Homo sapiens: one gene and its partners. The protein of the gene in region 2 interacts with the protein of the main gene of each other region in a pairwise test. Each region holds a gene or a part of one and is shown on either strand. Other genes may lie near its edges.

Region 1 (3,981 bases), on a different chromosome or scaffold from region 2:
GTCTTGAGACTTTTCCCATGCTTATGACCATCTTTTGGCGATGTGCCTGTAATGAAGCTCTTATCAGAATTTTAAAAGCTTTCTTAAAATGCGTTTAATTTCCTTTTTCATCTTCCAACTTAGAAGAAATGCCAATTATTCTAAGTTGGAAGATGAAATTCGAAGAGATGTCAATTCAGTTGCACTTTGATGAAAATCTGACTTCAGGACATTAGTTTGAACCATAAGAGCCACCAGGAGGGTAGTGCCTTTTGCTGAGGAACCCACAGTCATGCCTGTTGAGTTTCCCAAAACTTATATCTTGTCAAGTCAATCCAACTTAAAAGACACTGAGGAATCTGAATATCTTTTCTTGAGTCTTCTGGAGTCAAGACCATGTGCTGTCATAGAGCATCCTTGGGATGAAGGTCCATCTCTCGCATGGCACAACACACACTTTTTTGTGGATGTTAGATTATTTTAATTTGCTGATAGTGCATTCAGTATGAGGTTGATTTTTTACAACTGCTGATTCAAATACTGTCACAAAATATTTGAAAATCGATCTTTATGTATCACCAAGTAACTTTTCCATAAGTAGTATCCACAAATACAAAATCACTGAATATAAATTTTCAGCTGTATTTTCTGATCTGGTTACATAAATGTTCTTTGATTTAAATTAAGCCAAAGTTGGAGCTAAACAGATTTTCTGCAACCATTTCATCTTTAAGATGAAGTTAAAGATTTGCATTTGAAATCTCCCATTATTGAATTGGAAGTAGCAGTTCCAGTTAATGTCCAGCATCCTCTGAATGCCAATGGTCTTTGAGTAAACATATGAACCTTCATCGCTTTTAGTTGTTTAAGACACCACTTCACATGATCAGTAAGTAACAACAACAACCTCTTGGTAAATGCACATGAATGCAAATTCCTGTTTTATATATTTGGGTAGAAGGATAGAACATATTGAAAATAACAGATAAGTATTTACAAATTCTCACCTTATTTTTCCCCTTTACATTCAATGGCTAAGTGTGGGGATTCATCTGTAAATGCTCCCAGAAATGGCACAAAATTGTGCTATAATGGAACCAAACAACCACAGTGTTTGTTTGGGGTTTTGATTTTTCTCCAATAAAAGGTACTTATTTAGACAGTAAAATTTTTTAGTGACAATAAAAATTTATAACATAAAGAGCTTTTGTGTGTCCACATTAGCCACAAACTAGGGCAAGTACTTTATGTCTGTGTGTACACATTTACACACACGCACACACACAAAACTGGACCATGTTTCCAGGGTTCAGTGGAGGAAAAACTTTTTTCATTGTTAAGTGTAATGTTTTCAAATAGATGAATCAGAAAATTTTACATAGATGTAAGACCATTTTGTATGAACGGTATCAATCATGTGCATTGAGGGATAAGTAGGGTAAATGGTGTTTAAACAGCATTCTAAAGAAAGGATTAAAGCATTCTAAAGGCCCATGGGCTACTTTTTCCCAAATTTCAGAGCTGGGAGTCCCCAGCAGGGGATCCACAGAGCAGGCAAGAAGGAACCTGAAATAAACTTCAGAGGAAAAACCGCATGGGGAGTAACGTGGGTCAGCCCCTGTCCGCTGGGACCCATTTTCAGGCAGACACTACATGGCAATGACATCATCACAAGAGTTAGTTATATCCAAGAAAGCAGTTTATAAAACAAGCACCAAACAACTGGGCATAATTTTCCTCATTATCTACAGCCTTTACCCTGAACAATGGAGTTTAATCACCAAAAAAATTAGATACTAGGGCTCCAGATGATAGGATGGCCCAAGTTATTTAACGTTTTCTTGTTTAAAAGGTGGGCCCATTGGCACTTAAGAAAATAAATCAGAAAATAATATGGCTTCAAGTGGACAAATAAATATGAATTTCTAAGGAAGTCTTCGCATTATCTATTGGTTTCCTCTTGATTTGGTTCCATGGATAATTTCTCTCCAAGTTCTCTAATAAGTTCTGCTAGGTCTTCTGTATTCTGAGATTTTTCTTCAAGGAGTTCATAGCGGAGACTTGAGATGTCCTGCTTAATTTCCTTCAGTTCCCCTTTGAAAGCAAGAGTGATAAGAAGTCAACTATAAATACGCAATGCGGAAAAACTAGTGACTGTGGGACAGGAGGAAATCAGCTCTAATTTCACACACAATTTTATTTTGAATCCTTTGAAAGGAAATAACTTCCTAATTGAGCAGGTTTTTGTTTTCTTAGCTAAGTGTTTTTGTGAATGAAGAGATTATAGCAGAATGATAACAAAAGCCCTCCTAAAGTAAGTTAAAACAAAAAGGTGGTGAATGATTCAGGGGTTGAGGCAGCAGCCCCTTCCTTGCCTTTCCCACCCACTTCCTCCTCCCTCCAAGTCCACCATAAGAATGAGAGCTTTTTATCTAGCAAGTGGCACCTGTCCCCGCCTGTGGAGACATAGCCTGTTCCCCACTCTTTAACAGAACGGCGGTTGGTGAGATCCTGTTCTACTTTTCCCCTTGAAGTTCACTCTCCCTGTACGCATCTCTGCAGCTCTCCAGGCACTCTGCGCTAGGCCCCCGTCCTGACTCACATTCAGGGGCTGATTTGCTTCTGCGTTCAACTCACCTTCGTTCACTTCATCACTCTCCTTATCTATCTGGGCCTGCAGTACATATCTTTTAATGAGCCTTTTCATTATTTTCTAGAAAACAGAGAAAGGAGAAATCTATGTCAGTTTCAGGTTCATGACAAATCTCTCATTTGGAACAAGTTTCAGAGTCTTCCTCCCTGTAGTGAGCCCTTTGGAAGTGATGGCTGTCAAGGACTAAGATGATTCAGCCAGGATGCAGGCGATCTCTACATTTTGCTTTCCTTTTTAAAGCAGTTTTCACATCACCTAGGCTAATGACTCAAAAGTGAGTTCTTAGAAAAGAATGTTTAGAGCAAGTATGAAATCCTTTATGTCCATTGCTTGTATTTTATTTGAAAAGTATTAGAGTAAGACAGTCTTTCAGTGGGGTAGGTAAAAGATGTACACTACTGCTCGTGGAAATGGGAAATTAAGCTAATGTCTGCTCATTTAAGCCCCACGTCTGACCCACCAAAAAATGGAACCAATTTTTATTTTAAACTTTCTATTAATTTAGGAATGCTAGTTTCAATGTAATATATTTTTCAAGTACCTGGGCTTCTATCATGCAAACATTGCTTTTATTATATATTTTTCATAAAAAGAAGGAGTCTTAGTGGGTGCTCAGAAAGTCTTGATGGATATAGAACTAAATAAAATTTTACACCTAAGCCAAGGTTAAATGGTAGATAGTAAAACTCTACCTTCAAGAATCTATTCTAAAGATATGATTTAGTACATTAACAAGTATGTTCATAGAACTAGTTATATAATAGACAAAAATGAAACTTTAAATGTTCATCAGTAAGGAATTATTTTTAGTAAATTATATATTTGTATGAAGGAATATGATACATTCACTGAAATTAATAGGAATATATATTTTGTGGAGAGAAAATCACAAGCTAAAAACTATTACTCATTATATAAGTATTAGCTGATTTATATAGTATTATATATGCATTTTATAATAATATTAAAATATATGTAAAATTATGCACATATAGGCATATAATCATCTGGCAGAATTTTCACCAAAAGCAAGCAGACTTTGTTTCTCACTGGTGGAATCTGACATGAATTTTACTGTCGTCTTTATGTTTTTTGTAAGGTTTGCCTTTTCAATGAACACTCTCTTTTTTAATGGAGACTTTCAGATCTGTGATTCCAATACTTTATTTTTTTTAACTTATATATCTCTGTCACTTACAAAATGCCTGGTACATGGTAATTAATAAATATTTATTGAATTAATGCATTATTTGATATTGAGAAAAATATCCTGATACTTTAAAGAATCACATAGTTCAAGAACCTAAATATTACAAGTAACTAGTTTTATTCCTTTAAAAATCCATGCT
Region 2 (6,998 bases):
TTTTTACACTCCCACCAGCGCATGACAGTTTACAAATGCCATGGCAATGTCAGGAAGTTACCCTACATGTATGTCTAAAACGGGGAGGCATGAATAATCCACCCCGTGTTTAGCATATCATCAAGAATAACCACAAAAATGGGCAACCAGCAGCCCTCAGGGTTGCTCTGTGGAGTAGCCATTCTCTTACTCCTTCACTTCAGGCAGGGGAGATGAATTTCCCTTTGAGCCTGTGGACAGAGGGCAGCCTGGCAGAGGGACAGGCATCAACAAAGCCTCTGAGTGTGACCTGGGTCCTGAGTTCAGGGATGGCAATGGGGTAACTGAGACTGGATCAGAAGTTGCCTGGAAGAAGAGAGGGCCATTATCAGAGTATAAGAGTGTGAAACTTATCTGGTAGGAAAAAAAAAAGAGTAACTGCTGTTCGTTTAATAGAGCACACATCCTCTGCAATTCAGGTGGGAGGTTGTGAGCTTCTTAAGTACAGAAGCTGCCTCTTGATTTCAGCATAGCGAGGAGGTGCTGAAGAGCGCAGGTTTGGAGAATGATCACCTGGATTGGAACCATAGCTCTACCAATATGGAACCCAGCTCCTTAGGCCTCGGTCTTCTCATGGAGAACATGGTGTGATAATCCTACTCCTCTGGGAGGGTGGCTGTTAAGGTGAGTGATTGCACACGAGTCCCTCTAGCTGATGTTACCGAGCGGTCCTTGTTTTTAGAGCTCCCAAGAGGGTGGCGGGCCACTTCCAAGATGGCGGCAAGCCTCTTGTTCTCTGACCTGGGGTTCTTGGCCTCACAGATTCCAAGGAATGGAATCTTGGGGCATGTGGTGAGTGTTCTCATTAGGACGAACCCAGGCACTTAGACATGCGGGAACAATGGCGAGCCTTTAGCCCGAATGGGAGCGGCAATGGGTGCCTCGCTGGATCAGGAGCACAGCGGACACACTGCCGGATCCAGAGGGGTGGACATCAGTGGTGGGTCTGTGATGGCGGCAAACAACAGCAGACAGCAAATGGCAGTGGTGGATGGCAAGCGAAAGCTCAGCTCCAGCCATAACAAACACGGACCAGAAGAGTGTGCAGTTGCAAGATTTAACAGAGTGAAAACAGACGTCCCATACAAAGGGAGGGAACCCAAAGGGGGTTGCCATTGCTGGGTCGAATGCCTGGGTTTCTGTCTCAATCACTGTCCCTCCCCCTGTGCTCTCAGGCAATAGATGATTGGCTATTTCTTTACTTCCTGTTTTTGCCTAATTAGTATTTTAGTGAGCTCTCTTTACTACCTGATTGGTCGGGTGTGAGCTAAGTTGCAAGCCCTGTGTTTAAAGGTGGATGTGGTCACCTTCCCAGCTAGGCTTAGGGATTCTTAGTCGGCCTGGGACATCCAGCTCGTCCCGTCTCTCACTGACACCTAACACATCCTACATGCTCAGTAGACAGGAGCTATTATTGTATGACTGACTGCTGAATTACACCCCAAAACAACCACCTATACTCCCCAAGGCCCTGCCATATCATATGCATATTAGAGGCAATGAAGCACCAAAATCTAAGGCCAGGGAAGGACTGCGGTGGACAAGGGAAGTGCCTAGGGCGTTAAAACTTAAGGAGGCATTGCACCAACTGGGAGTGAGCTGTGTGTGCTGTGTTTCCTGGGCAGGGCGCCTCACTGCCCTTCCGAGTCCTGCCCTGGCTGAGGTTGTGCCTCTATCTGGTTATCAGTTGCCTGCAGCTCTTTCTGATTTTGTTCGTGAACAAGGGCCCTTAGGGAAGCCTCCCGCTGTTGGAAACAGCAGCAGCATCACCCAGAGTGAAGTCTCTGTTCACATGAGTGCCAGCTCTGCTCACACCTACCCTGCGTTCCCAAGGCACTGTTCCTGCTTCAGAAAGCATCAGCCCAGCCTGCTCACAGTCCCCCAGGATGTGCTGTTGCCTGGGTTCTTGACTAGGAAGTAAAAGGCCCAGAGGGGTTGAGTGTGTGTGTGTGTGTGTGTGTGTGTGTGTGTGTGTTAAAGTGAGGTCATTGCTAATTCCTGGGAGAACTTGTGTTCCCCTTGGATGAACCCCTTGGATGAAGAACCCCTTGGATGGGGTTGCCCAGCCCTAGGAGTGGATCCTGCAAAGCAAAATAGATTTCAGCACAGGGAGCTGGCTGGGGGGCTCCTCCCCCTCTTGTAGGTGCAGCAGTATTGAATTTGATTCCATCCAGGTTTCCCCTGACCCCAGGACCTAAAGCTGGGGCAGGTTCTGGGCCTTGAGGTTGGTTGGGGGTGACCCTTCCTAATCATGGAAGTCTTTAGCGGGGGCTTGTAAGGGACTGTGAGCTGAGCTAAGGAGAATGGAGGTGGGGTGCCAACCGCTCCCAAAGGGAAATGCCATCTCCCACTCACAGCCAGTTAGCCGAGAATGGGAGCTCCCAAAGGGAGGACCACCCATGGGTCTGCTTGACTCAGCCCTCCCCAACCCCTTTCACCTTTGCAGTAAAACTCTAGCCAAGGAAGACAAAGAGACCTTTGGAGACCAAAACAGAACTTTTAATTCGGGCCAACAGCAGGCTCATGCCCAAAATGGCTGCCAACCCCAACAAAGAAAGCAGCTAGCTTATATGTCGTTTGAGATGGGAAAAACAAGGTAGGATACAGGTTTCAGACAAAGACAGTAAATTACTTAACCCGTGACAATTCTGAGGAAACTGGCAATTCAGTTATATTGACTAGTCATCCTCCAAGCTGGACTAGGGTTGGAGGCTGGGGTCCCGAGGCAGGTGATAAGCTTTTGAGATAAGCTTGCATCTGCAACTTGTTACAATGCTGGGAGGGGCTGCTTAAAATTTTAGCCTATGTGTTACTTCTAAATAGCTTATACTAAATGTTAACTGTTTTCATGTGCGTCCATGTGAAGAGACCACCAAACAGGCTTTGTGTGAGCAACATGGCTGTGTATTTCACCTGGGTGCAGGCGGGCTGAGTCCGAAAAGAGAGTCAGCGAAGGGAGATAGGGGTGGGGCCGTTTTATAGGATTTGGGAAGGTAATGGAAAATTACAGTCAAAGGGGGTTGTTCTCTGGTGGGCAGGGGTGAATCTCACAAAGTACATTCTCAAGGGTGGGGAGAATTACAAATAACCTTCTTAAGGGTGGGGAAGATTACAAAGTACATTGATCAGTTAGGGTGGGGCAGGAACAAATCACAATGGTGGAATGTCATCAGTTAAGGCTGTTTTTACTTCTTTTGTGGATCTTCAGTTACTTTAGGCCATCTGGATGTATACCTGCAAGTCACAGGGGATGCGATGGCCTGGCCTGGGATGCGATGGCCTGGCCTGACAACTATTACCTATGTTATGTTTATTATTTTAAGCTTTATTATTACTATTTTATTTATTTTATTTTATTTTCCTTCCACACACCCGTTTCCACCCTGGAGAGGCCAGATGAGCCAGACTCCAGGGAGGCCTAGAAGTGGGCAAGGGGAAACGGGAAAGGAGGAAGATGGTATGGGTGTGCCTGGTTAGGGGTGGGAGTGCTGGACGGAGTTCGGGACAAGAGGGGCTCTGCAGCCATTGGCACACAATGCCTGGGAGTCCCTGCTGGTGCTGGGATCATCCCAGTGAGCCCTGGGAGGGAACTGAAGACCCCCAATTACCAATGCATCTGTTTTCAAAACCGACGGGGGGAAGGACATGCCTAGGTTCAAGGATACGTGCAGGCTTGGATGACTCCGGGCCATTAGGGAGCCTCCGGAGCACCTTGATCCTCAGACGGGCCTGATGAAACGAGCATCTGATTCAGCAGGCCTGGGTTCGGGCCCGAGAACCTGCGTCTCCCGCGAGTTCCCGCGAGGCAAGTGCTGCAGGTGCGGGGCCAGGAGCTAGGTTTCGTTTCTGCGCCCGGAGCCGCCCTCAGCACAGGGTCTGTGAGTTTCATTTCTTCGCGGCGCGGGGCGGGGCTGGGCGCGGGGTGAAAGAGGCGAAGCGAGAGCGGAGGCCGCACTCCAGCACTGCGCAGGGACCGGTGAGTGTCGCTTCTGGGGGCAGCGCCCAGTAACCGCGCTAGGAGCGCGGAGAAGGGCATTGGGAGAGCGGCGTTCGTGGCGGAGACTAGCGCTCCGGAGCACGGGCACGACGGGGGCACCTTCTCGGCTGCTAGTAACTAACAATAATAATAATCATAATCATAGCAAGGGCGCTGATGGGCGGGCTCGGAGCACGCCTGATTCTGGTTCCCACCAGGCTGCCCAGGCTCCTGATGACGCATCAGAAACATCCCCCTAACCCGCGGCCTTCCTGCAGGAGAGGTTGGGAAGGGGTGGGGGACGGGGCTCGGGGGAGGTCTCCGAGGGACTCTAGTAAGCGGGGAAGGGCGCCGGGAAAGTTTCAGATCCACGGCTGCGCGGGCCACGAGCCCACCCGAACGCCGACCACTGCTTTCCGTCGACTTCTATTTCCTGGGAACGCGCGAAAGCAAACCCAAGTCAGACTGCGGAGGTCGCTGGGGAGGGAAGGTTCAAGGAGTTCTCGCCGATCCTGCTGAATAAAGGGGGTTCCGAGCTGGGCCGAGATGGGGCATGCGCGGGAAGACCCCTGCCCGCTGTTCCCCCCCACCGCCCCAGTGGATGCCATGCCTGGGGCCTCCCCGGCGCGTGGGGCTGACGCACCCTCGGGGTCCATCGTAGTTGGCCGGGATCGTGGAGTGGGTGCGGTGGACGAAGGGAGGCAGGACAGTCCCGGGGGTGGCAGAAGGAGCCCGGGCACAGCTGAGACCTGCGCTCCCATCCCACCAACACTCACAGCAGGTGCTGCCGAGCTGGGCAATTGGGATGGCCCAAGTTATTTGGTTAAATTTTAAATCACGTTTGTTACTGGGAAGTAGAGTCCAGTGATGCTAACCGCGCCTCTACCTCCACCACCGGTGTCAGTCCCAAAGGGCTCCTAAAATGGCTGTGTCATCTTTCAGCCTTGGACCGCAGTTGCCGGCCAGGAATCCCAGTGTCACGGTGGACACGCCTCCCTCGCGCCCTTGCCGCCCACCTGCTCACCCAGCTCAGGGGCTTTGGTAGGTAGCAGTGCATTTGGTCTAAAGGGCAAGATGTTCTCTCTTTTATTCATAACAAATTTAAATACCAGCAGGGTTTGGGGGGAAAAACGCTTTCAGAAGAAAAGGTGAATGTCAGTCCTGCAAGAGTTAGTTTTAAAACTAGACTGAATTGGCACATGTATACCTATGTAACAAACCTGCACGTTCTGCACATGTACCCCAGAACTTAAAAGCTTATAAAAAAAGAAAAAACTAGACTGGATTATGTTGGGAAAGTGTAGCCTCTTCCATCTTAGGCATTTCCTAGAACGTAGGCAGTAGGTGGTCCTTATTAGGAGTTTTGGGAGAGGAAGGGGGCTGAATCCTACCTCCCATCCCTGCTCCTCTATGGGGTCTGAGCTGAGGAAGCTTCACCACAAGGAGAGAACCCCCTGACAACCCTGGATGCCACCTTTACCCTCACTGCAGGAATTCTGTGGCCACACTGCGAGGAGATCGGTTCTGGGTCGGAGGCTACAGGAAGACTCCCACTCCCTGAAATCTGGAGTGAAGAACGCCGCCATCCAGCCACCATTCCAAGGTAAGGCAGAAATGAAGTGGGCCGTTGGGTTCTTTCTTTTCTTTCTTTCTTTTTTTTGAGACAAGGTCTCACTCTGTCGCCCAGGCTGGAGTGCAGTGGCGCCATCTCAGCTCACTGCAACCCCCGCCTCCCAGGTTCAAGCGATTCTGGTGCCTCAGTCTCCTGAGTAGCTGGGATTACAGGCACACATCACCACACCTGGCTAATTTGTATGTGTTTAGTAGAGACAGCATTTCACCATATTGGCCAGGCTGGTTTCAAACTCCTGGCCTCAAATGATCCACCCGCCTTGGCTTCCCAAAGTACTGGGATTACAGGCACGAGCCACTGCACCCAGTCAGGTTCATTTTAGTTGTTATGTTAACCAGGTTTCCTGCACCTGTGCGCTAACTTTCACTTTCCCAAAAGGTTTCAGGGTGACCCAGCAGGCAATGAGTGATTCTCAAATTCAGGATTTATTGTGAGAGATTCACACACACAATTGAGCAGACATTCACAGTACAATGATTAAAGGGAGTGATAGGGTAAGGACCCACAGTGGAGGCTCTGGAGGCCAGCCCACTGACAGCCACTCCAGGGAGTCCAGAAGTCCCGCTCTAGTGCTGGGTGGTGGAGGGAAATCTGTTCCTCCAGGGACCTCGTCCTCGGCTGCCCAGCTGCCAAAGTCAGGAATAAGCTTTCAGAAATCTCACTGCCAAGATTCCGAAAACGCTTCAGACATTGCTAGTCCCTTGTCGCTTTTGCGATCCTCCACAGGTGTGCGTGCCACTGGGTCCTTATTCACTGGGGTCTCTGGTGGCATTGGGCCACAGCAAGTGTTCCCTCATCCCCTTAGTCTACCACACACATGCTTACCACTTTGAAGAAAAACCCCTTTACTATGAGCGAAAGTGAGAAACACGTATGTTTATTGTTTCTAAAGAAAGAAACTTAATATGGGCTTAATGCTACCTAGTGAGTGCCTCCATTTTGAGACATTAGGGTCACAAGTCATTATTATATATCATGGGCACAAACCTGCCCTGGGCAGGGACGGAAGGAAGCCCCTGCACAGGGGCAGTTGCTCAGGATGTGAGAAGAGCCTGGTGCATAACCCCATCCATGCCCACCTAACATCTCAGGCTCTGACCAGTGGGGCTGTGCAGTAGCGAGTGGATGGAGGGCTGGAACCCTGCAGCCTCCTCTCCAAACACAGGGTGCAGCCAAGACATTTTAGGAGCAATTTGGGATGGAGAGCTAGGAGTCGCCACCTCTTGGCTCTTCCAAGGCCGGAACTGGTGCCTGCACTCAGTTCAGTTTGAAGACTGCAGCTGGATGCCAAGTTCCATGGAGGAGTAAGAAACCGGTTTGAACTCCCGAGATTGCCCTGCCCCTGAAATC
Region 3 (7,037 bases), on a different chromosome or scaffold from region 2:
CCATTTTCTTTTTTTTTTTTTTTGAGATGGAGTCTCGCTCTGTCGCCCAGGCTGGAGTGCAGTGGCGTGATCTCGGCTCACTGCAACCTCTCCCTCCCAGGTTCAAGCGATTCTCCTGCCTCAGCCTCCTGAGTAGCTGGGACTACAGGCCCATGCCACCACGCCTCACTAATTTTTTCTATTTTTAGTAGAGACGAGGTTTCACCATGTTAGCCAGATGGTCTTGTGATCTGCCTGCCTCGGCCTCCCAAAATGCTGGAATTACAGGCATGAGCTACCGCACCCAGCCCCTGTTACCATTTTCTAATTTAGCACTGAATGCTAGAGATTTAGCCCTTCTTAAAAGTCAGGATTTTTACCGAATTATCCTTGTGAAGTCACTTTAAAACCTAGGGCATAACTTGATTGGTACATTTACACATCAAACAATAATATAAATGAGAGTATGATAGTAACATTCTGTATAGAACCTAAGTCTAACCATAAAGAATATAAGACAAAAAGCAATTGATACTTGTGTATCAAAGAGAATTATCTGGATATGTGGTATTAAACATGGTAAAATGTATTTGGAGCCCAAGTTCTATGAAAAGATTATAAATAAGGACTTACTCACTCTAAATGAATTTGTCTTCTGGCTCAGGCAAATGACATTCCAGGGTACTGAGAGAACTTGAGAATGAGGTCACTGAACAGCTCTCAGTGATCCATAAAGAACTGTGGCCAGTGGACTATGTTCCAGAAGGCTGATGTTAAAATCATAAATTTCTCCCAATTATCCTGTTTTTTTAAGTTTATTATAAAAAATTTTAAGCAGTTTCATTTTGGCAGTTATTTTGTAGATGGTGCTATGTAGTTCATATTTCATCACATTAGGAGATGTACTTTTAGTAATGCTAAGACTGAGCAATGGGTTCAGTTGGTGACAGTCTAATCCACTATAAAGTTTCCCATCAACCTTAAACTTAATTGTTTTACCATCCATTGATGAACATTGCCTGATTCCGTCATTTTGCTAGAGGTGACAAAAAGGTAATTTTGAATTCTGTCATTCCTTTTGTATTTTTTATTGGCTAAAGTAGTTTTATAGAGAATACTGTCATTCACCCACCACAGCTTCAGGTGTTAGAATACTCTGAAGTATAATTCATACCAGAGAGGCAGAATAAATGCTCAATTCTTTTCTTTTAATTATCATTTTAGAGAAAAATAAGATATCCTAGGAACTTTCATCGGTGTCTAATGAGTTATTTCCCTCCCTCCCCCTGCCTTTATATATGTGTGTGTGTATAAATATATATATATATTTATATATGTACAGAGACACACACTCTTCTAGTATCTGATGAACTAATGGATTTAATGTTTTCTATATGTCTTATTTAGTTCTACACATGTTTTTTTAATGCTCAATTGGCCATCTGTGGCCCCTTCTAGGTGATATCTCTTAACATCACTAAAATAGTTTCTGAGAGCTTCTTTGCTTTCTGGTGTAACGAGATATGCCACCCAACTTGTACATTTGCTGACAAAGACCTGAAATTTCTACCAAGGATGTTGGTTCTTTTTAGAGAGAAATGGTTCTTAGAGACTACAATCTGGTTGCTAGGGGTGCTCATTGACATTGGATTGTTATTGCTTCTAGGCCTTTTTGGTGGACAGAACTAACTCATTATTTTATTTATTTATCGAGACAGGGTCTTGCTTTGTTGCCCATACTAGAAGGTAGTGCTGTGATCACAGCTCACTATAGTCTCAACCTCCTAGGCTCAAGTGATCCTCCTGACTCAGCCTCCCAAATAGCCGGGACTACAAGTGCATGCCACCACACTTAGCTAATTAATTTTTTTTTTTTTTTTGTAGAAACAGGGTCCCACTATGTTGCCCAGGCTGGTTTCAAACTCCTGGGCTCAAGCAATCCTCCTGCCTTGGCCTCCCAAAGTGCTGGGATTATATGCATGAGCCACTATGCCTGGCCTAACTCATTATTTTTAGTCAGCAAATGTTTCTAGATTAGAAACATACGTTCTTGACTATATTGAGGAGGCCAAGTGTTTGTTGAATGGCATTTTACAAAAGCTTTCCAGGTATTTCCTGGCCTTGTTTACTTCCAGCAATAATCACAAAAGTCATTTTCCCCCTTACATAATGTAATCTTTGTTCTTAAATTGAAATATTCTTGCACAAGATCATTCTTCTGACCATTTTCTGTGTAATGATTACTGTAGCTCACTGCCAGCTGAGACCATTGCTCTTACATTTTGGCTTTCATTAAATTTGAGAGAGACTTTTCATTATGCTGTCATTATTTGATGGGCATGCCTAGATAGTGCCTTCTCCACACTGACACAGTTCATTATAGTCCAGACTATATGATCTAAATTACAAATCAAGAGGGAAGATAAGATTCAGTTCTATAAAATAGTGATTCAGCATTCATCAGATTAACCTTTACTGGGGACCTGCCATGGGTTAGCCATTGTGGAAAATGCAGTAATTAGGCAGGATCCTTGCCATCAGGAAGCTTATCTATGAGTAGAATAGATTAGGTGGGATACATATTGATTCTTTAACAGACCTAAGGATATTAATGTTAGTGGGATTTGAAACTTAACCTAAGCTTATCTTTTGGAGCACTTCTTTAAATAGTAAGCAATAACCTATCAAAAGTCAATATACTAGAGGGTAGTCAGGTAGAAATGATCTATGTGAATTATAAATCACTTAAAGAGTACTGAGGAGAATTAGAATTCCCTATATATCTCTGTATATCCCTATGTATTTCTGAATTTAAGAAGTTGTAATCTCAGAATGACAGATGTCAAACTGCTGGGATGAAATGACAAGTGTGCTGACCCAGAGGAGTCTTGGTTTTTTAAAAACATTCTTTTGATTCTCAAGAATAAACTGTCAGTGCATCACAGATGGTTTCAATAAGCTTCACGAAATGAAAGGAAAAAGAGAACTAATTATACCCAAAAGTTAGAGTGGAAACTTTTTATAGATGGTCTTAGTTTGGAAATTGAATTAAGAAATGAGAAAATGTTGGCCAGAGATGATGCATATTTTGTATACGTCAGAGTTTGACTCTCATTAGAGTACTCTAGTATTAAGACATTTCTTCAGTTTGAGGTTCATTAAATTCATTATATGCATGCTTCGTGAAAAACATTATAATAGGCACTCTTCGGAGACTGGGGTAGGGACAGGAGAAAGTAGCAATAAATGACATAGACACCAAATGGAGATGGGGATAGGGGAGGAGAGGAGAAGGTAACAGGATAAGTAAAACATATCCCCAACAATTAAATTGATTGTAATGAAGAAAATAGACCTATAGCAATTTACTGCAGTATAACATAATACAGAATGAAAAAAGTGTTAAAGAGAAATTACAGACAAGCTGTTATTTGAGTGTGAAGGGCAGAAAGAATAATCCTGAATTGTAGTGATTAGGAAAGGCTTCAAGGAGGAGATGGCATTTGAACTAAGCCTTGAGAGATGAGAAGCATCTGAGTTGTGGGAATGTAAGAAGGGCATTCCAATTGAGGGAATGAGGGGCTCCAGGGAAATAACGAATGTGATGGGAGATGAAACTGAAAAGTTAAGGTTAGGGCCAAATTACAAAAATCCACATATATCTTGCTGATCAATAAGTCTGGATTTTAATTGTCCTTCCCTTAGATTCTTTCTCTAGGCCAACAGCCTTTATTTTATACTCTCTTGAGTACTCTATCAATAAATGACAGTGCTTTTCTCCTTTACATTTCAGAACATATACCCCTCTTTACAACATCTTTAATAAAACCCCACCTGACAACTGTTCCTTGTGAGCCAATAGGCTGAGTTTCAGGTTTTTCTAATAAGAGAAATTGCTAGCACTATAAATTGGCATTCCTTATATTCTACAAAGAATCATGACTATCTGAATGTATCAGCATTTAATGTTACTATGAGTTATTCAGGGAATACTCAATATTTGTGAATATCATTCTGCATAAACAGGACAAAAATGAATAAATACCACCCTGGTATCTTTGTTTGCTGTTTCTTCTACTAATATTTGTAAATTTGATATTGGAAAGTAGTCTATTTCCTCAATTGAATCTTTATTCTTGAATCTGTCTTTCATGAAAATTCTATAATCTTATAAAGAGTAGTACATTACTTATTGTTCAACAAATGTTGTTACTAGTAGTTGATGAGTAATAAAATATCTTAAAGTTTTATAGTATCATAAAAGTTCCATAAAAACTAGTATTCAGTTGAAATGGTCAATGATATCTCTTTAAAAATATGGTCAGATTTTATTTTATTTTATTTTTATTTTTGGAGACAGAGTCTCGCTTAACTTTCCAGGGTCAAGCAATCTCCCACCTCAGCCTCCTGAGTAGCTGGGACTACAGGCGTGTGCCACCATGTCCAGCTAATTTTTTTAGTTTTTGTAAAGTCAGGGTCTCAGCTAAATTTTTTATTTTTTTATTTTTTGTAAAGTCAGCCATGTTGCCCAGGCTGGTCTCGAACTCCTGAGCATAAGCAGTCCATCCACCTCAGCCTCCCAAAGTGCTGGGAGTACAGGAGTGAGCAGTCACGCCCCACCAGATTTTTTTTTTTGGAGGGGGCCCTATATTCTGCTCACTTCCCAGTGTATCACAACTATATCTTTCTTTGTTCTATTCTTCCTATATTTACCACACAATTGTCAACTGTATTATTTCAATACAGGGCTTGTTGTACTTGGGCTAAGCATTATTCATTTTCTTGAAATCTTATCACACACTGGAATATATCTTAAACTTACTTAGAGACTGAATTTGACTTTGAGAGATTGTTGTTGTATTAGAAATGGAACCAATCTGGTATGCCAGTCCTGAATTGTTTCCCACAGTAGACGTTTCGTTTGTCTAGCATATTTTTTGCTGTGAGCCATGATTCCACTTAGGATTTAAGTGAGTCAATCAGTCCACAGCTATGTATTAGCCACCTACTGCATGCAAATCATATATTTATATAGGTCTCTCCTATCTTTTTCCTAAAGTCCAGATAAGTGTATCATACTGCCAAGGAGACCTTTCTACTTAGATATCAGCCATCTCAAAACTAATGTGGTCAACCACAAACTCTTAATTTCTTTACTAACTTGTTCCTCTACTAGTTTATTCATCTTAATAAATAGCACCACCATCTACCCAGTGATTCAAGCCAAAAACATAGGAATCATTCGTGAATTCTCAGTTTCCAAATTTATTCCCTCACCCAACTCCAGCTACATCATCAGCAAGTCTTGTTGACTCTTCCTCCGAACAGTATCCACCACCTGCCCACAGTCCTCTGTTCTGCTCCTGCCACCCCAGGCCAAGCCCCCGTTCCCTCTCCTGGGTTCTGCTCCTGTTCTTATATGTCTCCTGCTGTTTTACAGACATTCTCAACAAGAAGCCAGAGTGATCTTTTTAAAGCATAAGTTAGTCTTGTCAATTTCTTGCTTTAAACTCTCCAAAGGCTTCCCATTACACTTAAAATAAAACCAACTGCTTACCTTGGCTGACAAAGCTGTATCTGATCTGGGATCTGGCCCCTGCCCTTCTCTCCACCCCTGCCTCATTTCACACCACTCACGGTTCTTCCTCTACAATCGAATCACACAGGCTTTATTCCTCCTTCTCTGTTTCGCCAAGCCTGTTCTTGCCATGGAGCCTTTGAACAGTTTTTTCCCTTTGCCTGGAACATTTTGCCTTTTCCTTGAGTCTAAAGTAAAGTAACTTAAGTAGTCACTCACACACACACACACACACACACACACACACACACAATTTAGTCACCTTTATAATGTGGCGTATTTTATTGTCAACAGTTTTTACAGCCCTTCTCAGTGTATGAAATTATCTTTTCATTGTTTACATTCTGCCTCATCCCCCCACCCCCAGCTGTCACCATGTTCATATTTGAGTATATCTAAGTGTTTCAGAATACACTCAAATTCCAGAATACGTCTGCAATAGTGCCAGGCACATAGTAGATCTTCAGTGGATATTGAATGAATCGTGACAAATGGTATGTATGCTTCCATTAATAGCAGTATTGAAATGGTTCTTTTGATGCCATTAATATTATTTTAATAGGATAACAGAGTTCTCTATTTCTCTCTTGTTTACGCTTTAGATATGAAGCCCCACAGATTGCCTTACGTTGTGGGATTATGCTGAGAGAATGTATTCGACATGAACCACTTGCCAAAATCATCCTCTTTTCTAATCAATTCAGAGATTTCTTTAAGTACGTGGAGTTGTCAACATTTGATATTGCTTCAGATGCCTTTGCTACTTTCAAGGTAATTTTTTTTTTCCAACTCAGCTAGGTCAATTTATAGTCACTTGGCCCCTGAAGAGGCAATTTAATTTTAAAAAGCAAGAAATTTTACTTCTTAGGCCTCAGTGTAGCCAACCATGTATGATGTGGATCATAAGAGGAATCTGTAAATAGAATGCAGTCTATGAGGCCAGTCTGTCCTATTGCAGGAAAACAACTCAAAATATTTGTCACAAGCTCAAATGGAGTGAATTCCAGTATATACAGTTACGTGGGAAAGGAATATGTAGTGCTCTGTGTGTGGCATGCTGTCATTTATGTTAAAAACAGATTAAAGGGCATAAGCTTCCACTTAAGGTACATATGCACTGAATACCTCTGCAAGGATGCATAGGAAACAGCAACAGTGATTAATTCTGGGGAAAGGAACTAGGTAGTGAAGGGAGATGGAGAATTACATCTTTGAATATGAAGGACATCATGTTATTTTATGAATGAAATTTTTAAATGTCCACATGGTGAAACAAAATAGTAAGAAATTATATTGTCGTTGTTTCATAATCATCTATAGTTTGATCATGTATTATCTACTTTGTCACTATGTAGGAAATCGTAGGATGCAATATATTCACATTGTTAGGCAACCAACTACCAGAACTTTTTTATTTTGAAAAATTCAAACTCTACCTCTATACTTATTAAATAATAACTCCCCATTTCCTCCTCCCTCC

What was found.
Region 1: the proteins of MX1 (region 2) and TRPC6 interact in binary tests that used the Homo sapiens proteins (3 or more experiments, as listed by UniProt).
Region 3: the proteins of MX1 (region 2) and CAB39L interact in binary tests that used the Homo sapiens proteins (3 or more experiments, as listed by UniProt).

What each region holds. Positions count from the first base shown.
Region 1 is NC_000011.10:101,451,034-101,455,014, forward strand, and holds the end of TRPC6 (short transient receptor potential channel 6), read right to left. Parts: intron 2,693-3,981; coding exon 2,617-2,692; intron 2,074-2,616; coding exon 1,922-2,073; 3' UTR 531-1,921; downstream 1-530. UniProt on the Homo sapiens protein: Forms a receptor-activated non-selective calcium permeant cation channel. Probably is operated by a phosphatidylinositol second messenger system activated by receptor tyrosine kinases or G-protein coupled receptors.
Region 2 is NC_000021.9:41,422,249-41,429,246, forward strand, and holds the start of MX1 (interferon-induced GTP-binding protein Mx1), read left to right. Parts: upstream 1-3,990; 5' UTR 3,991-4,015; exon of another isoform or gene 4,016-4,298; intron 4,299-4,957; 5' UTR 4,958-5,056; intron 5,057-5,506; 5' UTR 5,507-5,618; intron 5,619-6,998.
Region 3 is NC_000013.11:49,350,035-49,357,071, reverse strand, and holds part of CAB39L (calcium-binding protein 39-like), read left to right. Parts: intron 1-6,159; coding exon 6,160-6,328; intron 6,329-7,037. UniProt on the Homo sapiens protein: Component of a complex that binds and activates STK11/LKB1. In the complex, required to stabilize the interaction between CAB39/MO25 (CAB39/MO25alpha or CAB39L/MO25beta) and STK11/LKB1.